4 separate regions of the Homo sapiens genome follow, and regions 1, 2 and 3 are each reported to be linked to region 4. Evidence: microRNA targets listed by miRTarBase, many of them from high-throughput screens and not tested one by one. Region 4 holds a microRNA gene; each other region holds the end of a gene's coding sequence.
What was found. The annotated mature microRNA hsa-miR-1285-5p reads GAUCUCACUUUGUUGCCCAGG and lies in region 4 at 2,449-2,469, shown strand. An mRNA with a match to its seed (bases 2 to 7 or 8) in the 3' UTR can be bound and repressed. Matches are read on the target gene's strand: a 7mer-m8 pairs with bases 2 to 8, a 7mer-A1 pairs with bases 2 to 7 and ends in A, and an 8mer does both.

Region 1 (4,226 bases), not on the chromosome of region 4:
AGATTTCCCTAACTAGACCGTGAGTGCTTTGAACTCAGGAATTGGGAATTGGATCTTCTTCATCTTGGTCTCCATGGTGCTTTTGTAATTCCAGAAATGTGGTGGATACTTATATATGTCCATGAAACTACTGATTGAACGAATAGAAATGTAGATTGATATTCTTCTGCTTGTGTAGTACTTGGCATTCAATATTAGAAAAAAATCCAGTCAGTTATGTTCTATGTTAACGTTTTAAGGAAGTCATTAATGTCACTTTATTTTGACTTTTATTTCTTTTCTTGTAGGTGAAAATGCGTGGAATAGACTTTTTTGAATTTCTTTGTCAACTAATCCTGAAAGAAGCGGATCAAAAAGAACAGTTTTCCCAAGGATCTCCAAGCAACTGTCTGGAAACTTCTTTGGCAGAGATATTTCCTTTAGGAAAAAATCACAGCTCTAAAGTTAATTCAGACAGCGGTATTCCAGGATTAGCAGCCAGTGTCTTAGTTGTGAGTCACGGTGCTTACATGAGAAGTCTGTTTGATTATTTTCTGACTGACCTTAAGTGTTCCTTACCAGCCACTCTGAGCAGATCTGAACTTATGTCAGTCACTCCCAATACAGGGATGAGTCTCTTTATCATAAACTTTGAGGAAGGAAGAGAAGTTAAACCAACGGTTCAGTGTATTTGTATGAACCTACAGGATCATCTAAATGGACTGACTGAAACTCGCTAAGGTTAAATCTGCATCAAAATCTAACCATTTTGAGCCTCTGAAGGGAGTGCCATTGGCTTTATTTACTTCTCTCCTCTGCTAGTTCTGATTTGGAAACAGTTAAAAGCCAATTTTTAGCTCCAGTGGAACCATAGCCACATAAAACTTTAATGGACAACCATATAGAATTAACTTATTTTGTCCAAGTACAGTTGGCATTTTCCAGAATAATTTTACCACCCTGCTAGATGTCATCTCTGGATTGCACATGGATGATGAAGGAACTCAGCATTGAAAGTTGGGGGATTAGTAACCTTGTTACAACGGTTTCTTTTTCATTTTAGCCTATTTTAATGGCTATTGGTAAGATACTGTATGTTTTTAGTATCTCATCCAGTGCTTAGAAGAAAGAATGGTTTATAATTCCCAGTACATGTTTATATTGACTGTGTTATATTTTTAAATCCTTTAAATAAAAAATCCTTATAAGTTTATGTAAAGCAAAATAACACTAACATGTTTTACGTATAAATCAACTATTGGAATTTTTTATTCTAGAGGGCTTGAAATGTGGATGAATACAGATTATGATTGCAGAATGGTCTGGGGGAAGAAGTTAAAACATTTGATTTAAATACAGTAAAGAAAGAATCTTGGAGCAGAAGATAGAAGAACAGCCTTTTCTAAATAATGCCTTGCCAAAGTCAAGTCAATGGAAACCAGGAAAGCCAAAAAAATGAAGAATATCCACTTGCTTCTTATCTAACCTGTAGGCTGAAGAATTTCCAGTTTGAGGAAGGCTCTAAAGAAAGTAAACAGTTAACAGAACACCACACAGTAATCAGAATAAAAGAGGGGCCTTCTTTGTAAAGAATGGTGCTCTGGGCCGGGCCCAGTGGCTCACACCTGTAATCCCAGCACTTTGGGAGGCTGAGGCGGGCGGATCACAAGGTCAGGAATTCTAGACCAGCCTGGCCAACAATGGTGAAACCCTGTCTCTACTACAAATACAAAAAAGCCAGGCGTGGTAGCAGGCGCCTGTAATCCCAGCTACTTGGGAGGTTGAGGCAGGAGAATCGCTTGAACCCGGGAGGTGGAGGTTGCAGTGAGCCGAGATCGCACCACTTCACTCCAGCCTAGGTGACAGAGGGGATGACAGAGGGTGCTCTGCGGGCAGGGAAGGCGGGGTGGTTGGGGGGGAGAGAATGTTGCTCTGATAACCACAGCTGTGGTTATTTTGTGGCAGGTACAGGTGAGGTTGCCTCTTCTTTCCACCAGATGGCACTGGAGAAAAGGGATTTTGATTAACTTAATTTTATACACAAGATTGGTCTTTCAGAAATCTTTATCTAAATGAAGAAACTGTTCTACATGTAGTTCGCTTTTAAGTCACCATGTTGCTAAATGCTGTGAGTCTCAACTTTAAAGAGGGTTAATACTAAAGTTGTCAGTTAAGGCTATAGTCACATATAGTCAAAATTTACTTTGACATCATTTTAAATCATATGTAAAATTCAGTATTATATTGTTCTTAGTGTGTCTAGCACTACCAGTTTTCTACCAGTATTGAAACAGGGCACGTGTTTGAGCATCAGAGGAAGTATACTGTAAATAAAAATTTGAAAAATAAGCAAAAAGGACAGACAATAATTATCTCCATTCCCACCATACTGAAGTCATCTTTCCACTTTTTTTTTTAAAGAAACAAAACATAAAGATAAAAGTAGAGTTCTCTTTAACCAGCTCTCACAGTCCTGTTCCCTCCAGAGGCAGCCACTGCAGTGAGTCTGTGTATATGTTCACCTGTTCATCTGCTTGCAATGTTCATCTGTTCCTTATATTTTCACCTAGTGTCTGGAAGGAGATGGTACTGTTTTGGTGCTTTAAAAATAAATATCAAGCCATCTGTGTTCTTTATTTTTACTTATGTCTTGGAGGCATCTCTGTGTTGATATATATAGATCTAGTTAATTATAACCACTCTATTCTATTAAATATAGCACATTTTTGTTTATTAGTGGGCATTTAGGTATATTCAGTTTTTATTTTCTTTGCTTTTTTTCTTTTTTTTTTTTTTTGGAGACAGAGTCTCTCTCTGTTGCCCAGGCTGGGGTGCAATGGCGTGATCTTGGCTCACTGCAACCTCCACCTCTCGGGTTCAAGCAATTCTTGTGCCTCAGCCTCCTGAGTAGCTGGGACTACAGGCATGCACCACCACGCCTGGCCTTTTTTTTTTTTTTAGTAGAGACGGGGTTTCGCCATGTTGGCCAGGCTGGTCTTGAACTTCTGACCTCAGGTGATCCACCTGCCTTGGCCTTCCAAAGTGCTGGGATTGCAGGCATAAGCCACCGTGCCTGGCCTATGATGCATTTTTTTAATATGTGTTCTTAATTTTTAAGACAAACCAATATACCTTATCCTTTATGGGGTTTTTTTGGTGTGTATCTTTAAGAAGACTTCTCTACCATGAGGTCATACAGTAATGTCTTCTTACAGTTTTTGAGAACTTCTGAATGTCAAATCTTGAAATTGAAATTTGCTTTTTATAGTATAAGGTAAGAATTTAATTTTTTTTTTCATGTGGTTGAAACAGTTATCCCAACACCATTGTAAAGGCTGTTCTTTCCCAATTGGTTTGTGGTGTGTGCTCTCAGGCCTCACACCCCCTCATTTGCTAGAGTCTGTGGACTCTTTTAGTTATCTGTGTATTTCCTTATCAGTGTCATACTTAGTTACTGTGGCTTTGCAGCTGACTGTCTTAAAGGGTGGATACCTCCTCTTGTTCATTTTTAAAGTTGTCTTAACTATTTATGCACTTTTATTCTTCCATATAAATTTTGGAATCAATTGGTCAATTTCCAGAAAAATTCTGTTACAAATTTTATTGGAGTCACATGCATCTCTTCATCTATTCAATACGTATTTTTTGAGCATGGCACACACATGCCAGGCTATTTTAAGAACTACTACAACTATGATAAAGCTGTGAATATGTAGCCATGAACCAAAACAAAGTCTCTGTCCTTGTGGAACATTTGTTCTGTCAGAGAAGACAGTGTGTTGGCTCACATTGTGGTCAGTGCTGTTGAGCAAAATAGGTCAGAGTAAGGGGGATGGAGACTGGTGGGAGGAATGCTGCTTTATCCAGGATGGGCAGGGAGGACTCGATGGTGTCAGCACTGAAGGATGTAAGATCTGCTGCTCTGGGGAGAGGAGCAGCATGGAAGGAGTAGAGTGCAGAGGCCATGAGGAAGGATCAGGCTTGACTCCTTTGAGCAAGGGGGATGGGAGAGTGACGGGAGAAGAGGACAGGCCACATGGCCTGGTGGCCTGTGCTGAGGCCTTGGGCTTTTACTCAAGTGAGATGAGATGCCATTGGCCAGTTTGGGCAGTGATGTGATCAGACTTGTTTCAGCAGGACCATCCTGCTTGCAATGTGGAGAGCAGGCTGTAGGGGGTGCTATAGGAGCACAAGGTTGGAGGCAGGGAAGATGGCAGCACTGGCTGTTGGGCCATTTGAAGAAGCAA
Region 2 (4,189 bases), not on the chromosome of region 4:
TAATTTTTCCCCAGCTTTATTGAGGTATAATTAAAAATTAAACTAAATTTTTAATGGCCTGTGACATTTTGTCATTTCATGGAGTTGCCTTTCTGTTTAAAGTCTTATATGTATCACCTCAAGTCTTTTAGCAAATAAGTGATACAGATTTTTTTTTAAATGTTGAAACAAATGATTACCTGTCAGTGATTTTAAAAGTTTGTTGACTTTCTACATTCCTAAGTGGAATTAACTTGCAAGTTCTAAGTTCATATATAAAATTCAATTCAAGATCATGTCTAGATTTTCATATTTCAAAATACTCAATTTTTTAGTAGAGAAACTGCCAAGTTATCCTGTGTTTTTCCATTTTGATTTTACTTTCCTTCTTGAAAAGAATACAGTCGATGAAACTTAAATAAATACAGCACATGTTGAGTTTTCTGCCCTAAGTGTTAAAATTCTATGTTTTTTAATGCAGATGTGGAATTAGAAGAAGCTATTAGAAGAAGTCTTGAGGAAATGTAATTAAAGATATTACCACACAACATCAAGTGGCCTTGAAGAGACTGAGATAACGAATTCTTGAGTTTGTTTTCTAAAGGAGACCAGAAATCCACTATTACAAATGTATTTGAAAACATGTTTTTGCTTTCATATGTTCAAAATCTGATCTTTGTTTTGTATTTTTGTGCTAATGTGCAAACATGTACAGAAGAAATAGAATACATGTTCATGCAAATATAAATTATGTATTCTAATATAGGTGTAACAGTTTCCCAGTTAACTTTGAATTTATATATTTAGATTTAAAGGATTAAAAAAAAGGAAAGCTCTTGACAGTTGTTTCCCAAATAGCATTAGTTCTTTAATTTTATTTGTACTGTACAAATGATGCTAGTTTATTTTTTTAGCAGTGAAAATGAATATAAAAAAGGTGACATAGGTCAAGTTTTCCATAAATTCTACTTCTCATGTGGCACTATTATATAATACCTTTGAGATCTTTGTTTATGTTTATTAGAAGAGGGTAATGGAAACTGATCATGGAAACATTTAAAATTTTATCAGCAATGTTCTTTGTGGGTGCCATGCATATGTAAATTATTGCTTTAATTAGAGCAGCACATTGCTAAAATAAAAAATACACCTTAATTTTTAAGAAATAATTTAAATGAAACAATTTCCATTCCTTTTACCTGCTTAGACTTTTATGTGACTTGTATGGTCTCCTGGTTAAAGGGAATGGTGTCAGAATATTTGCATAAAATTATTTTTCATAACAGTCCTTTTTTATATATTGGTGTAAACATAATATTCTTCAAGAAATAATGTTGAAAGCCTACTCAGGAATAATCTTCCTTAACTCTTTAAATTTTTATTTCATGTGAAGTGTTTTCAGTTTAGTTATTCACTGAATTGTCAGTTTCCTTCATTTGGTATTACATATTTAATTCTTAAATATTGAGGCCCCATTGTGAGTAATAAAAAATACGACATAAGTAGAAGACTAAGAAGGGCTTGTCATATTATCTTTGTGTATATGCTTCATGTTATTTAACCAGAAATGTCTTATCTCTAAAAATTTTTAGTAGTAATTATTTACCAAACTTAAAAACATTTCTATAAATATAAAGCTTTTCTTTATATTTAAGACAAAATATAAAGGCTAGAATTTGGTTCCTTCTCTGTAACACTAAATATTTTAGTGTGAAATTGAATTTTTTTATTACTATAGTCTTTTCAATCTATAATTTGTGTTTTTAATTTCTTGATATGTCACTTCTGTTCCTCCCTGCTTGCATTTTTTAAAAACTAGACATTGTGGCTTGAGAATTTATCAATCATCTTTCCGAAATGACCACATTGTGCTTTTAGTTTGTATGTTTAAGTGGTCAAGCAAGGCTCTAGGAGGTAGTCACTGAGCTGGACCTTAAACACATCTGCAGGAGCTCACAAAATGGGAGCAAAAGAGGCATTCCAGAAAGAAGAGTAGTTAAGCAGATGTGGGGGCAGGGCAAGAGGAGACAGCACCTTGTTGCCAGAGATTCTACACAAAGGTGTGATGGACACTGATGCTCTATTAAGAAGCTTTTGTGGTGTGTGTGGTAGAGAATAATTAAGGCTTCTGATAAGACAGGAAAGGGATATTTCATCATGACTGTTAAGAAAAGGTAACTGGGTTGTTTAATGTTTTAATTGATAATTGTCACTGATCGTATTTCTACTTGTTAAATAATTAAAAATCATCTTAAAATTCATACTTTGACTTTAATTTAGACACAAGGAGATGTAATCGCTGTGTAACATCAGAGAAAGCTATATGGATTATCGTCAGAAGTAAATGTTTCTAACATTGACAAAGATGCTTATCTTTTCATTACATCATTCACTCATTAATTCATTCAATCACAAAATATTGAGTACCCACCATGTGCCAGCAACTGTTCTAAGCACTTGGAATATACCAGTAAGCAAAACAAAGCCCTTACCCCTCTGTGGAGCACATATTGGTGGAGAGGAGGGGATTGTACAATGTTAGTAAGCAAGGCAATAAAACTGCATATCTGATGGTGATACGTGTAACGACGGAAAATAAAGAAGGGAAGGGAATAAATAGTGCAGGGACAGGGAGTTGGGGGGAGGCTTGCTATTTTTAATAGGGTTGTCAGAAAAGATCTCACTGATAGGTAAACTTGAGCAAAGACCTGAAGAAGGTGAGGGAATGAGGATGAAAATACATATCGGGAAGAGAGTTCCAGGTGGAGGAGGTTAAGGTCCAGACAGGAGCTTAGTATATTCAAGGAAAAGCAAGAAGACTAGTATGGCTGACAGGATGAGCTAGGAGAGTAATAGGAAATGAACTTACTGAGGTTTTTCTAATGACCTGGGCTTTTACTTTGAGGTAAGGAGCCAGTGAAGGTTTCTGAGAATAAATGGTATGATCTGCCTTATTTAGGATTGCTGTAGTTGCTGCACTGAGATAACATGTACATGAGAGGCAAGAGTAGAAGCAGGGAGACCAGAGAGGAAGGTATTGTAGTATTCCAGGTGCAAACTCACCAGGTAGCTTGAACCAGAATGGTGGCGGTAGAATTGGGAAGAATCTGGATATATTCTGAAGGCAAAATTGATGGGGTTTACTAATGGTGTGGATCTAGGATAAGAGAGAAAAAGAGTTCAGGATGATTCTAAAGTCACTTGATAGACTTTCAAACCACTCACAAAATGTGTTTTGTTTTCGTTTGTGTCATGATAAAGTTATTTTTAATAAGGTCAAATAATCCCCTACCCCAAGAGTTAATTAGGATTTAAAATGAGTTCAGAGGGAATTGGGATCCAGCCTTAAGGGCTTCAACTCTGTTCAAGTATTTAAATGGCTTTGATCTCTGATTAAAGGTGGTGGCTCAGCTTTAAACTATTATTATCTATCATTTTCTGTGCCCTGTACATTGTCATCCTTGCAATGAGAGGCATAGAGCTATCAGGAGAGGGGACTAAAGCCTAACTTTTTAAGTAGACTAATCTTTGTATCCTCAGCTCTATTCCGTCTTTTACCGACAGCTGGTGCCTGACCTAGAGGCCTACTGCATCTTTTTTGTTAACAGGATTTTTAAAAGTTGAGGACTTTTTAATGCCAATTATTTCACTCAGAATATTTATTTATTTATTTATTTTTTTGAGACAAGGTCTCGCTCTATCGCCCAGGCTGGAGTGCAGTGGCGAGATCTCGGCTCGCTCAACAGGAATAATTTTAATAGCAAAAATTTAAAACCCCTTCATTAAGCCAGGCGTGGTGGTTCACATCTGTAATCCCAGCACTTTGGGAGGCTGAGGTGGGAGGACCGCTTGAACCCGGGAGGTCGAGGCTGCAGTAAGTCGTGATCGCGCCACTACACTCCAACGTGGGCGACAGTTAGACCCCATCTCAAAAACAAAAGAAAATTAGAATGGTAAAAATGAAGTAAATTCACTTTGCTTCCCACATCTAGCTAGACAGGGAAAGATGGAGTAGCTTTTTCTTTTTTACTTCATAGCTTCAGTGTTGTCCGGGCTTTCATTACTCTCATCTCAGTATAAAGTGGTAACAGGAAGGTCAGGTGAGTGTGGGCTGCCTACGAGCTGTACTTACTGCCTTCTGTTTCACAAAAGGACGTTTTCTCCCCATAATGTCGTTGTTCTTGCTTTGAATTATGGGTGCTGGGAGAAA
Region 3 (4,226 bases), not on the chromosome of region 4:
ACTAAAAATTAGCCGGGCGTGGTGGCATACACCTGTAATCCCAGCTACTTGGGAGGCTGAGGAAGGAGAATCGCTTGAATTCAGGAGGCAGAAGTTGCAGTGAGCCCAAGATCATGACACTGCACTCCAGCCTGGCGACAGAGCAAGACTCTATCTCGGGGGAAAAAAAAAAAAGATTGAAGTTCAGGAGAGGATTAAATAATTCCTCCAAGGTCACACAACTAGTATAGCAGAACAACCAAATAACTCCTGCTTGACTCTAGAATCCACATTATTATTATTTTTTTTTTTTTTGGTTAAGACGGAGTCTTGCTCTGTCGCCCAGGCTGCAGTGCAGTCTCAGCTCATACCATTGTCCTGCCTCAGCCTCCACATTCTTAACCATTATGCTGGAGACAGTTCTTGTCCTTTCCAACTGTTGTTTATGTTCCTGAATAAATTTGAGAAACATTTTGCACAGCTCTGGGGTTAAAAAGAAAAATTAGCATTCTGATTGGAATTGGCATGTATATATACATAATTACTTCAGGAGGAAATAACACTTTCACCAGTTTTCTAACTCAAAGAGTTTATAATTAAGCTTAATTAAGCATACTGTTTCCCCCCTGCTATAGTGGGACTTAAGGATGGTGATCATGTCCTGTCCATACTGCAGGGAGTGGTCAACAAAGGCTGGTTTAATGAACAGTCTCTACCCTCAACTAAGCCCCTGCTTCATTAAGTGAACCCATAAAAATACCTGTGGGTCTTTGTGTCAACCATACCACCCACTCTCCCGACACTACTCTGCTCTCAAGGGCCCTGACATACAGGGTTGATTGTGGCATGACATTAACTTGACCCTCAACTTATCTTGATGTACCCCAAAGCATATAAACAATGTTTCCATTCCCTGTTGATGAATTCTGACCTGAAGTGCTATCAACAAAATGGCTTTTAGTTTCCCAGAGGAAGACAGCCAACAGTAAAAACGTTGTACAGATTGCTTGGTTCTAGTTGCTTACATTCCCAAGTTGATGTATTTTTTCCAATCTTAAACAGATCCTCCCCAAACCCCTTCAGTCCCAGTTCTCCACCTCACCTGTTGCTGACAAAACAAAGCTCAAGCTTCCCCATGTCTCAACTTCATACCCAAAAGAAAACTTGGAATTAGACGTGATTCTGTATTGGCTAATCTGTACATTTATCACAGCCACCCGCCTAGTTAGGATACAATGAAATGGCCTGGTGAAAAACACAAGCCTAACTTACTTTTTATATCACAACACAATGTTCAATTAGATGACTTAGAGTCAAAGGCTCAGAAAACCACTGTGAAAACAAGCCAGGGGATGAAGTTGCTTAAATAACAAAACGAAGGTGGGCCATCTTTAGCATGGGAAGAGGCAGGTAAGGAATACTGAGCCCATAAAATAGAAGGCAGACTGGTACAGCAGAAAATCACAGATAGGAGCCAGAAATCTAATCTTCAGCCCTATCTACATCACCTGCCTCCCTATCATCTTGGGAAAATCACTATTTCCTTAGGTATAAAAATATTTATCTCAGCACTTTCACTGGTCTGTAAACTGTCCCCCGCCCTTTCCTCTTTTAACTGTCATAAAAAAGCAATACATGGCTGGGTGAGGTGGCTTACAGAATCCCAGCACTTTGGGAGGCCAAGGCAGACGTTATCAGTTGAGCCTGGGAGTTTGAGACCAGCCTGGTCAACATGGCGAAAGCCCATCTCTACTAAAAATAAAAAATACAAAAACTAGCTGAGCTTTGTGGCATAAGCCTGTAATCCCAGCTACTTCGGAGGCTGAGGCACGAGAACTGCTTGAACCCGGGAGGTAGAGGCTGCAGTGAACTGAGATCATGCCACTGCACTTCAGCCTGGGTGACAGACACTCTCTCAGAAAACAAACAAAAAGCAGTACTTCACTGATTATAAAAACCGAAGTTTTCCATGCCTAATCATGTAACATAGCAGCTTTGTAAGACTCCAAATTAATAATCCAAACACCCAGCATATACTCCATTCTACTACCAAGAATTATACAGGAAACTGAAGCAGAGAGGTTAAGTCACTTAACCCAAGTCACCCAACTATCTAGGCAGTTTGGCTAAGTTGGTGTTCTTAACCGCAGCATTAGACCATCTAATGCTCATTCAATTCCCTATGCTTACATGAAATCCTGGTCACTCACCTGGAGATCCTATGGAGAATTCTCCAGGAGATTCACCTGGAGAGCTGTGTCATTCCTATGAAGCCTGAAAATCCTGACTTGTCACTCCTGGTCCTACCCCTACTGACCCACAGTACTTGCTTCACATTACAAAATCAGTAGGAGTACCATTTTGTGACACAAATGAGATCCACAGATGAGTTACTGCTATGGATCTAGCAAATGCCTGACCCAGTGAAGTATTCTCCTGGGGTAGCGATGTTTCTGCCAGAGGCAATGCAGGAGGTACAGGTGAAGGGAGACATCCGTGCAAAGGCCAGTAATGAGCAAAAAAACAAGTTATAGAAGATAGGGGTCAGACCAAGTGAAATAAAGGTTTTTACTCTGTCCTAAAGATGAAGTAAATCCACATTCTTATCGAATTAAATTTGCATCCTTAAAGGACTACTGACTCTGGGATAGATAAAAGACATACCAATTAGGAGGACTGAGAAGTCCATACCACAGATGGTTGAGGAGTTAGACTAAATTGGCAGTGAATTAAGTGCATAAAAGTGTCAAAGGCAGGCCTAAAATAACTCGAATTCTCCAAGGCAATTCATTTTTTTGTTACTACAACCATCTGTCAATCTGAAATCAATCCTACGAATCCTTACGTGCAAACTAAAAACTGGAGAATTGCAGACGTTTGCAACATTTAATGTGAAATTAGTTTCATACTGTTTCCTGAAGATGCTGATGGTGTAGGTCAAATGAAACATCATAGAAGAGGCAGTATATGTATATCCTTTAGTATATCTTTTACCTTCAGAAACTTTTTTTTGGAGACAGAGTGTTGTCCTGGCTAAATAAAGTGCAGTGGCACGATCCTGGCCCACTGCAACCTCCGCCTCGTAGGTTCAAGTGATTCTTGTGCCTGAGCCTCCAAAGTAGCTGGGATTACAGGCATGTGCCACCATACCAAGCTATTTTTTGTATTTTTCGTCGAGACGGGTTTTTGCTATGTTGGCCACACTGGTCTCAATCTCCTGGCCTCAAGTAATCCACCTGCCTCAGCCACCCAAAGTGCTGGGATTTCAGGCGTGAGTCACCGCACCCAGCCTAGACACATTATAAAAATATTAAATGCAAGGCTGGGCGTGGTGGCTCACACCTGTAATCCCAGCACTCTGGAAGGCCAAGGCAGGTGGATCGCTTGAGGTCAGTTCAAGAACAGCCTGGCCAATGTGGTGAAAACTCCATCTCTACTCAAAATACAAAAATTAGCCAGGTATGGTGGTGCGTGCCTGTAATCCCAGCTACTCAGGAGGCTGAGGCAGGAGAATCGCTTGAACCTAAGAAGTGGAGGTTGAAGTGGGCCAAGACTGGTATACTGCACTCCAGCCTGGGTAACAGAGACTCCGCCTCAAAAACAAACAAAAAAACTAACTGTAATTTAAAAACTAAAGTTTACAGTTGGCTCCAATGTATCTCAAAGTCAAACTGGCAGGAGCAGACTTATAAAAAGCTAACACTCATATCTAACTTGGAAGACTTATATTCTTATGCTGCATTTTACCATTTGACTACTAAAAAAGACACTGAATTACAATAATCCATCTTGGCATGCTTTTCCAATACAACAGTATTTACACAATGCAAACATCAGAATGTCTAATAAAGTTAACAAGCCAAGGCAATTTTGTTACATAAATTAACCCATTTATTATAGGCCAGTGATGTCTCAAAGAGTAGAGGAGCGTCTACTGGTCTTTCAACTCCTTCAGTCTTCTGATGGCGGACTTTACCGTGACAGCGGAAGTGGTACTGGAAAGAAAGATTCAGTTTCCAACATAATTAAGCATGTTAACATAGAAAATGGCAAATAAGTAAATCTGCCTCGTTTTTGTGTTAAAGTCGCTTCCCAAATTTTCCTAGAAAGAATTATACTGAGATAGACTGCTCTACCAATACTTTGCTGCAGTCAATCCAAAGATCTAACCAACATTAGATTACTCCTCGGAAATTAGTGGCTTCTAAACTACATGATGGCATCCTTTAAGAGCCATGCCTTCAGGA
Region 4 (4,000 bases):
TGGCTTTGATTCTGGGTGAGTGCAGTAGTATAGTCTCCCTGTGATTTCTTCAGCTTTAATGAGCATTAGCGGTGTCTGAGAGTCCCTCAGTGGCTTAGACTGTGGTTGTTAATGAAGGCTGTAGTAGGCTTTTCTGGGGACTGTGACTCCAGGTAGACCAGTGCTCAGGCACTAGTAGTTGTGCCAGTAGGCAGGGCATGCCTTTCCTCAGGCCCCTAGATAGTACATGTGGGCGCCAGCAGGCATAGGCAGAGCATAACAGTACTTAAGGCCCCAGATGAAATGCACAGGCACCAACAGCAGGCAGAACAGGCCTGTCGTCAGGCCCTCTGATGGTGTATGCAGGCAATGGCAGCAGCGTGCTAGTTGAGTCAGTCCTCAGGCCCTTAGATGGCATGCTTAGGCACAGTTGACAGTGGCAGTGGGCAGAGCAGGCTTGTCCTTAGGACCCTAGATAATGTGTGCTGGTGGCAGTGGTGGGCAGGGCAGGCTTCTCTCCAAGCCCACCTCTGGAGTTTGCAGGTGCTGGTGGCAGGCAGGTGGGTTGACCTCCTGGCACTATGTGCACAGGTGACAGCAGCAGTAGGTGGGTTAGACCCTTTTCAATCCCACTTTAGAGCTCTTCAGTTAGAAGTTAGTTTATGGTGCTCCTTTTTCTAACCGTAAGTCATTATAAAATACAGGTTTATCAGTTATTTTTTGGCATATTTAACACATTTAAATGGGATGAACAGCTTTTTAGTTTATAATAGGAAGCTAATAAAAATCAAATCTAATTTGTTTCATTTTGTTTTGTTTTTTGAGACAGAGTCTTGCTCTGTCACCCAGGCTGGACGCAGTGGTGTGATCTTGGCTCACTACAACCTCTGCCTCCTAGGTTCAAGCAGTCCTCCCGCTTTAGCCTCTCAAGTAGCTGGGATTACAAGCATGAACCACCAAGCCCACCTAATTTTTGTGTTTTTCATAGGGGGGTTTCACCATGTTTGCCAGGCTGGTCTCGAACTTCTGACCTCAAGTGATCCACCTGCCTCGTAATTTGTTAATTAAGATTTGTTAAGAATAGACCAAATCAGTTAAAGTAATAATGAAGCTTATGCATTTTTAAAAGGCATTTAGATTAGGAAATTTCACTGTAAACCCAGTTTTTATTTTCCTCATTTTTATGTGTCTTTTTTGTTGTTGTTGTTGTTGAGATGAGTTTCGCTTTTGTTGCCCAGGCTGCAGTGCAATGGCGTGATCTTGGCTCACTGCAACCTCTGCCTCCGGGGTTCAAGCGATTCTCCTGCCTCAGCCTCCCAACTAGATGGGATTATAGGCATGTGCCACCACACCTGGCTGATTTTGCATTTTTAGTAGAGAGGGGGTTTCTCCATGTTGGTCAGGCCAGTCTCGAACACCTGACCTCAGGTGATCCGACTGCCTCGCCCTCCCAAAGTGCTGGGATTACAGGTATGAGCCACCGTGCTCGCCCCTTTATGTGTCTTGATAGGTCTTTATAATCACATAACTCCTGAAATATCCCAGTCATAGTTTAGTCATTTTATATTAATTTTCAGGGTTATCTTTAAGGGCAACAGTTACTTTGATAGATACACACGTGAATGGAGATAAAATATCTAGGAACATAGGGTGGAATAGAGTCTGATTTTAGTAATGACCTGGAGCTTAATTTCTTGAAGTCTCTTCTAGCAGGGGTCCCCAACACCCAGGCCATGGACTGGTACCGGTCCATGGCCTGTAAGGAACCGGGCCGCACAGCAGATGAGCAGCAAGCAAAGCTTCATCTGTATTTACAGCACTCCCTATCACTTGCATTACCATCTGAGCTCTGCCTCCTGTCAGATCAACGGTGGCATTAGATTCTTATAGGAACATGAACCCTCTTTTGAATTGCACATGCAAGGGATCTAGGTTTCATGCCCCTTATGAGAATGTAATGCCTGATGATCTGTCACTGCCTCCCATCACCCCCAGATGGGACCATCTAGTTGCAGGAAAACAAGCTCAGGGCTCCCAGTGATTTTACATTGTGGTGAGTTGTATAATTATTTCGTTACATATTACAATATAATAGTAATAGAAATAAAGTGCACTATAAATAAAATGGGCTTGAATCATCCCAAAACCATCCCTGACACCCCTGTCTGTGGAAGAATTGTCTGCCACGAAACCGATCCCTGGCACCAAAAAGGTTGGGCACTGCTCTCTTGCGGTCACCTTGCTTTTGGGTCATTTGCTTATCATTTTCTTTTTCTTTCCTTTTTTTTTTTTCCTTGGGACACAGTCTCACTCTTTTGCCCAGGCTGGAGTGCAGCGGCACCATCATAGCTCAGTGCAGCTGCAAACTCCTAGGCTCAGGCAGTCCTCCTGCCTCAGCCTCCCAAGTAGTTGGGACTACAGGCATATGCCACCACACCCAGCTAATTTTTTTATTATTTGTAGAGATAGGATCTCACTTTGTTGCCCAGGCTGGTCTCAAACTCCTGGTCTGGGCAACAAAGTGAGACCTTATCTCTACAAGGTGATTCTCCCACCTTAGCCTCACAAAGTGCTGGGATTGCAGGTGTGAGCCACCACACCATCCTCATTTTCTGTTAAAACTATTTTGCCCACACAAAATAGGCTGCTGTTTATTAGCTTGTAACCACTTTTCTATTTCTCTTGTACTAAGTTCATTAAAGGAAATGAAGGAGAAATGCCCCCCACCATTTCAAGAAATTTTTCCTCTGCTGTTTCAGAGCATTTTATACCAACATCTGCAAATCATTCTTCATAGAACTGGATGGTGATGCTGTGCCATTTCTCTAAACTATATTTTATGTTTGTTAGCTTTCCAATTTTTGGCAATAATACAAAGTTTTATATAGTATTCAAATGAAGGTTTAGTGATATTATTTAACACTTAAATATAACATTTCATATTATGTATAATACTTTGATCCAGGATTCAAATAAATGAGTTAGCAGTAACAGACAGAAGGATGACAATAATATTCTTAATTAACAGTCTGCTTTTTCCTTAGATAAGAGGTTCAGTTTCTTGAACTATAAATAGAAATGCTATCCTTGGGTATCTAAACAGGTGATTGAACCAAAGAGTAAAGGTATTTTCTATCCATCTAGTCATTACCTTGTTCTCTGTAAACCACTGATAAATTTATGGCACCTTTGAAAGCTTTAAGATAGTTGCATATTTCAGCCGTCAAATGTGGGAACAACCAGCTTGTCCTCAGTTGTCTTAGATTCACCAAGGTCTACTAGGATTGCATTCAACAAGCTTAGCAAAAACATAGCAAACACCTTCATCTGCAAAAATACCTTCATTTGCATTTAAAACACTACATGGGATACATTAGTGTCAGAGATAGGAAAAGCCATGGGACACAGTTGTGTTTTTTGTGTCAGTTGTTTCTACCTTCTATAACTACAGGCTCAGTACTTTTGTTGGAAATTTGACTTCTATAATTGAGAAGTAACTATACTACAGTTGTATTTTTTTCTGTATATTGAACTGTTTTGAAGCCATATTAATGGACTGTTTTGTGGCTTTTGAATAAAGAAATTTCAGGTGATTGATTTAAAAGAGAAGGCAGTTTAAGGTAGTATGATATCTTGACTCTGTTCAGTCTGTACCTTGATAAGTAGCTATTTTAGTATATCCTCCTATGTATAAGGTTATATTTTACAATATAAATGTAGATAGCCATTTTTAAAAGATACTATTAGTTTTTCCTTATACTTAATGTATACTCACATAAATTACCTGTGTTTCATTCACAGAACCTCACTTTATTTATTTTATTTATTTATTTAGACGGAGTCTCACTGTTGCCCAGGCAGGAGTGCAGTAGCGTGACCTCGGGTCACTGCAACCTCCGCCTCCCAGACAGAACCTCACTTTAAAAATCCCCTAACCCATTATCTTTCTGGCACATTCTTAGTTTAGTATTTGTGGTCAATATTATAAGAATTGGTATTTATAGAAACTGAATGCTTCTAA

Region 1: the mRNA of TIGAR is a reported target of hsa-miR-1285-5p. Seed matches in the 3' UTR shown: 7mer-m8 at 4,058-4,064.
Region 2: miRTarBase lists ZNF451 as a target of hsa-miR-1285-5p. Seed matches in the 3' UTR shown: 7mer-A1 at 550-556.
Region 3: the mRNA of RPL37A is a reported target of hsa-miR-1285-5p. Seed matches in the 3' UTR shown: 7mer-A1 at 3,636-3,642 and 7mer-A1 at 1,541-1,547.

What each region holds. Positions count from the first base shown.
Region 1 is chr12:4,351,973-4,356,198 of GRCh38, forward strand. It overlaps TIGAR (TP53 induced glycolysis regulatory phosphatase), which reads left to right. Exons shown (of 6, transcript NM_020375.3): 6 at 288-4,226. The coding sequence ends at 719. Among named protein-coding and RNA genes, the nearest start is that of FGF23, 26 kb to the right of the region's middle.
Region 2 is chr6:57,167,963-57,172,151 of GRCh38, forward strand. It overlaps ZNF451 (zinc finger protein 451), which reads left to right. Exons shown (of 15, transcript NM_001031623.3): 15 at 461-2,343. The coding sequence ends at 507. ZNF451-AS1 (ZNF451 regulatory antisense RNA 1) reads right to left here. Exons shown (of 4, transcript NR_110742.1): 1 at 4,112-4,189; 2 at 3,043-3,136. Among named protein-coding and RNA genes, the nearest start is that of ZNF451-AS1, 2.2 kb to the right of the region's middle.
Region 3 is chr2:216,501,089-216,505,314 of GRCh38, reverse strand. RPL37A (ribosomal protein L37a) reads right to left here. Exons shown (of 4, transcript NM_000998.5): 4 at 1,229-3,974. The coding sequence ends at 3,911. Among named protein-coding and RNA genes, the nearest start is that of RPL37A, 4.4 kb to the right of the region's middle.
Region 4 is chr7:92,202,536-92,206,535 of GRCh38, reverse strand. It overlaps MIR1285-1 (microRNA 1285-1), which reads left to right and starts at 2,438; the gene lies at 2,438-2,521. All of the region lies in intron 17 of KRIT1 (KRIT1 ankyrin repeat containing), which reads left to right.